2 separate regions of the Homo sapiens genome follow, and region 2 is linked to region 1. The links come from fine-mapping of genetic effects on gene expression. A gene starts in region 1. The other region holds a variant in brackets. All regions are shown on one strand. Distances are from middle to middle.

Region 1 (2,902 bases):
TAAATTGTAAAATAAAAGGAAGTTCAACAAACTGTTGACCTTTCCATGGTGACTATTCTGATGTTTTTGAAATATAAAATATTAGGCCGGGCAAGGTGGCTCATGCCTGTAGTCCCAACACTTTGGGAGGCCGAGGCAGGTCGATCACCTGAGGGCAGGAGACCAGCCTGACCAATATGGTGAGACCCTGTCTCTACTAAAAATACAAAAATTAGCCAGGCGTGGTGGCAGGCGCCTGTAATCCCAGCTACTCGGGAGGCTGAGGCAGGAGAACTGCTTGAACCTGGGAGGCAGAAGTTATGGTGAGCCAAGATCCAGCCTGGGCTCCAGCCTGGGCAGCAGAGCAAGACTCTGTCTCAAAAAATAAAATAAAATAAAATGAAATATAAAATATTAAAATCTGTCCAAAAACGTGTTCCTTGCTGGTACCCTACACATTGTGGCCTGCTTCCTGGGTGATCTGGCCCCAGGTGGGATGCTAATCCCAAGTCCCCTCCCAGCACAGCCTCAGCCCATCTTTCAGGGAGAACTCAGCTACCAGGAGCCTTTCATCCACATAAGCTTGATGCCCATCCAATTCTCCGGCCAACCTCCTGAGCAGGGGCAGGAGACCCATGGGAAGTCTGCTCAGATCACTAGGCAGGACCACCCTGGCCTCCGGCTTAATCTTAGCAGCCTCCAGGGGCTCACCTGACCGTGCTGTCTCATCACAGGGGGCCCCCGAAAGGACTCATGGCTTGGCTTGCCCAGAGGCTTCCATGGGACAGTTAAAGGCTAAAATGGGACCCCCCAGGCAGCAGAAGTGCCTCCCCCCACCCCACATTCCAGTTTTTACCCTGGGCCTGACAACACAGGAAGCAGGCTCCCTGCCAACACTCACACCCTCTACCATACAGACACTTGCCCCCAGTCTCTGGTCAACACTCTCTCACAGGGTCCTCACCCTCATCAGCCCAACCCCTGCTCTGTAACAGAAGGGAGCTCTGCCAGGCGGAGCCTCCACACTCAGAGAACAAACTACAGAGTCAAGGACCTGCCCCAAGTGGGTGCCATGGGGAGAGGGCCTCGGTGGCGGGGGGAGGCTGGCTGGAGGAGGAACAGAATGGCAGAGCCCTGGAGTCCAAAGGCCCTGGCTGACAGAACTGGCAACACGAAGCCTCAGCCGCCCTTCCCAACAAGCCTGGGGCCCTGACCCACCGAGCAAGACTCCTTTCCTGGAGGAGCTGCCACTCTCTAACCTCTGGCTCTAACTGAGCCCCATCAGAGACAGACAGTCAAGGCTGTAGTCTGCAGACACCTGGCTGGAGCTGAGGGCACAGCAGCCCCTCGAAGCAGCGGGTGAGAGGACTTACTGGCTATGCAGAGCAGAGTGTGGAAGAGCCACATCCTTGCTGGAGCAGAGGCGGCTGTGTGGGAGCCGAGGCGAGTGCGACACATGGGCCGTGGCCCACTCAGCTTCCCCTCAGCCAGGAGGCCAGGAGGCGGGGACAGAAGCACACACACCAGCAAGGACCCACAGACCGGCACTTTCAACCAAACAGAGACACTCCGGCTCGTACACAACCAGCCGTGTGGCTTCCTCAGTTGTGGGCTGGACCCTAGGAGCTTAGGGGCCACTGTCAGCCCCACTCTACCACCCACACTTTGACCCACACTTTCATGGAATAGGGAGCTGAGGTTTGGCCAGGGCCACAGTTCTAGGTGTCCTCAGCAGATGCTGGAGGTGCAGGAGCAACGTGAATCCAGCCTGCCGTTCGTATCATCCATTTGAGTCGGTCCCCTGTCCTGCCTCAGAACCTACCACCAGACATCTCAGCCCAGCTTCCAGCCCAGGGTCCTCGGTGGTGGTTGCCTCAGCACTGAGACAGGCGTCCCCCTCCCATAGGAAGTGCCTCCCCAGCCAAAAACTGGGCTCTTGTACCAGCCCATGCACTCAAGGCCCTGGGGTTCTGGAGGGCCAGGTGAGTGGAAAGACCCAACGCACTGAGTGAAATCACTGCCTCGATTCAACTTCGGCTGCGTTCATTCTCTTTAAAACCAGGACAGCAACCTGACGTGGAAACTGACTGAACAGGACTCTGAGTTACCAGAATAACAGAAGTAAAATTCTATACATCTTCCAGCATACCTGTGATGCATCCCAGCATTCCACAGAACACGCCGTTGACAGCTGGCAGTCGTGTTTAAGTGCTGATCTGAGATCTGTACTGTGTGACCAAGTCTGTGACACAGAAGGAACTCTCCTGCACCCCTGCTCCCCAGGCTGCTGGAAGTGCAGAGTGGCGCCGTCAAACAGAACTCTGCGCGGGGATGGAACTGCTCTAGGTCGACGCTGTCCAGGATGGTACTCATGAGCCACATATGGTACTAAACCCTTAAAATGCCACTAGAACAACTGATGAACTGAATTTTGTATATTTTATTTAATTTTAATTAAACGTAAAAAGGCAGGACATTCCAAGGCTCTCTAACACGAGTGTCTGCAGCCCCATTCGCTTTGAGATGTGAATGTGTTAACCCAGGGTGGACAATGGTGTTGACTTCATTACTAGATAAAAATCCATGTTATTTTGTTTCTCGCATTGAAAGGCTGCTTGGCTAAGGTTCTGTGAAGATCCGATGACATTTCCAACACTTTGCCTTGTCTGCTTTGCTCTGACAAAGTGCTTATGACTACTAGATCTTGCTCGGTTATGTGAGATTACAATTCACCGGTTTCCATCCTGTATGAAACAGAAGTTAAACAGTTGTAAAAGCAAAATTCCAGGTCTGGTGGTTTTCCTGCCAGGTCATGATGAAACCATCCTACTTCTGTTGAACCTCGTCCCAGGCAGGATCGGGGCCTGCGGCCTACAGCCTGTCTTCCCAGCGCTCCAGGGCTCGTGACCCTCCTCCTCCCCTC
Region 2 (2,902 bases), 97 kb before region 1:
ACACATTGGGACTATATGCGTGAGCCACTGTACCCAGCCTGCCATTTTCTTTTTACATCATCTCCCTTGCTCCTAAGACTTGCCAGCATTTTAAAGTCTATTATTGTGGTCTGGACCCACTCTGGGACATCCTGGTCTGCTCTGAGACCTGGGACAGTCTCTGATAAAATCCTGGTGGACTCCCAAATGTATCCAGTAAAAGCTACGAGGGAGCCTCAGACAGAGCCCTCCCCTCCTCCAAAGAAATGTGCTGGGGGCCTCACCTGGGGGAAACCAGACTCTCCTGCCTCTGATCCCAAGCTTTCCCCACACCAGTATCTGTTCCTTCTACACATTTTATAGATGAAAAGCGAGAATGTATGGTGCAATGGGCTGAGCCTTTAGAGACAGGGGAATTACTCCTCAAATAGAAAAACTCAACAACAAACGAGGCCAGGCCCAGTGGCTCACACCTACAATCCCAACACTTTGGGAGGCTGAGGTGAGAGGATCACTTGACCCCAGGAGTTAGAGACCAGCGTGGACAACGAAGTGAGACTCTTGTTTCTACCTAAAAAAACAAAACAAAACAAAAAACATTAAAAAATTAGCTGGGCATGGTGGCAAGTACCTGTGGTCCCAGCTCCTTGGGAGGCTGAGGTGGGAAGATTGCTTGAGCCCAGGAGATTGAGGCTGCAGTGAGCTGAGATCATGGCACTGCACTTCAGCCTGGGTGACACAGAGGGATACTTTAAAAAAAAAGAAAAAGAAAACTCCTCATTTCCCTATGGGATGAAGTGCTTCCAAGAGGAAAAATGTCAGCTGCAGGAGAGTTGCCAACAGCATCACTGTTCCCAGCAGCAGCTTGGAGGTGTCCCTTGGTCACCCCTGCAGCCTCTGAAGACACGTGGGTTCTCTCTTCCCCTCCAGCTCTGGTGAGGGTGAAATAACACCTCCCCCTTAGCCTGAGATTCCAACAAACCCAAAAAACATTCCCCACAAAATTAAAGGAAACAAAACAGAAAATAAACAACATTTAAAAACCCCAGCCGGGCATGGTGGCTCACGCCTGTAATCCCAGCACTTTGGGAGGCCGAGGTGGGTGGATCACCTGAGGTCAGGAGTTCGAGACCAGCCTGACCAACATGGAGAAACCCCATCTCTACTAAAAATACAAAAAAGTAGCCGGACGTGGTGGCACATGCCTGTAATCCCAGCTACTCGGGAGGCTGAGGCAGGAGAATTGCTTGAACCCAGGAGGCAGAGGTTGTGGTGAGCTGAGATGACGCCATTGCACTCCAGCCTCGGCAACAAGAGCAAAACTCTGCCTCAAAAAAACAAACAAACAAAACCCAAAAAACCACACAAAACCCAAATCCCATAAAATCATATGGTTCTTGGAGTAGAGGTTCAGATGTTACTTCCTTATGGTGAATTCTATTTCCCACCTCAAAGGAGCAGGAAGGCCTGGAAGGAGGAGATTTGA[A/G]TCTCTCCTGGGGCACAGAAGGTCATTCCGCGATAAGGGGGCCAGCTGCAGACCCAGCCTTCCTGCCGAGTCCTGAGGAGCTGGGTGGCCCAGAGAGACAAGAGTGGGCAGGGGTGGTACGGGAAGAGTTTCACCAAGAGCCTCCCAAGGCAACTCGCCCTTTTCCTTTTGCTGAGGTCCTTCCATGACGGACATATCCCATTAATAGACATTACTGATCCACTTAAATGGCAGATGCATTATTAACGCCATGTAAATGCAGTCAACAGAAGGCAGGACACTCCTCTCTGTGGGAGGCACTTCCGTGCCCATCAGCACCTTGTGTGACCCACCGTAATTGATGGGTTGGTACTCAGTACCCAGCGCCCAATATTTGAACTGAGGAAAATTCCACTGAGACAGTAAACACTTGAAAGAGTAAAGAGCCAAATGCTAGTCCACTGGGCACTAAAAAGGATAAAGATTCAGGCCGGGTGTGGTGGCTCACACCTGTAATCCCGGCACTTTGGAAGGCCGAGGTGGACGGATCACCTGAGGTCAGGAGTTCGAGACCAGCCTGACCATCATGGAGAAAACCTGTCTCTACTAAAAATACAAAATTAGCTGGGTGTGATGATGCGTGCCTGGAATCCCAGCTACTCGGGAGGCTGAGGCAGGAGAATCGCTTGAACCTGGGAGACAGAGGTTGCGGTGAGCGGAGATCATGCCATTGTACTACAGCCTGGACAACAAGAGCAAAACTCTCGTCTCAAAAAAAGAGAGGATAAAGAATCAAACTCGAGTCAACCAAATCCACAAAGCAGTGACAAGTCTACCACGGTACCTCTTAGAGCTACGCACATCTTGTTCTAACTCCAGTTCCCGGCGCTGGCTTCCCCCACAGCATGTGTGAACTTTCTCACACGCATCCGCTCCTCTCCACTCCCAAGTTCCAGGACTGTGGTGATGCAATGAGAATGAGTGTGAGAATGGTGGCAATGCAATGAGTGTGAAACCCACGTATCAAATACCACGAATGCCCGTGTCTTCCCATAGTTCCCTGTACACGATTCGGATCCAATGCACAGTCCTACCTGCCTTCCCAGCTACACAGTCCCCACTGCACACTCAGCCTCAGCCAGCTTGGCTCGTGGGCTTTACCATAGTTTTCAGTGTCCAGCTTCCCTACCTTTGCCCAGGTGGATCTCTCCTCTGTTCTTCATGGCTTCGAGGGTCAGCTTACAGGTGTCTCTCTCCTTCATGAAGGCCTCCTCAATTGCTGTCCTCCTCCAAATGTCCACACGATAGGATCTGTACCATTTAGAGAATTCATTGCTTTCTCCCTCGCTGTCACAGTTGGGTACATATCTGTCAAGCAGGAAAGGCCTTCAACAGTCTGACCACAGGACCTGCATGAAGTAGGTAGTCACTGAGGCTTGTAGAATGATGAACAAAGAA

Alleles and levels. Alleles are on the strand shown, and positions count from the first base shown. SD is a standard deviation of normalised expression in the study named.
For the expression in platelets of the gene that starts at base 1,430 in region 1, allele A in region 2 goes with a lower level than allele G (large effect, 1.0 SD a copy in CEDAR).

What was found.
Region 2: its variant is fine-mapped to the expression of ITGAE in platelets (CEDAR, PIP 0.95).

Annotation. Positions count from the first base shown.
Region 1 is chr17:3,799,759-3,802,660 of GRCh38, forward strand. ITGAE (integrin subunit alpha E) reads right to left here and starts at 1,430. Exons shown (of 31, transcript NM_002208.5): 1 at 1,353-1,430. The coding sequence starts at 1,386. It overlaps NCBP3 (nuclear cap binding subunit 3), which reads right to left. Exons shown (of 13, transcript NM_001114118.3): 13 at 2,400-2,902.
Region 2 is chr17:3,702,793-3,705,694 of GRCh38, forward strand. It overlaps a transcript of P2RX5 not described here. Among named protein-coding and RNA genes, the nearest start is that of P2RX5-TAX1BP3, 7.8 kb to the left of the region's middle. The variant A/G (reference allele first, on the strand shown) is at 1,466.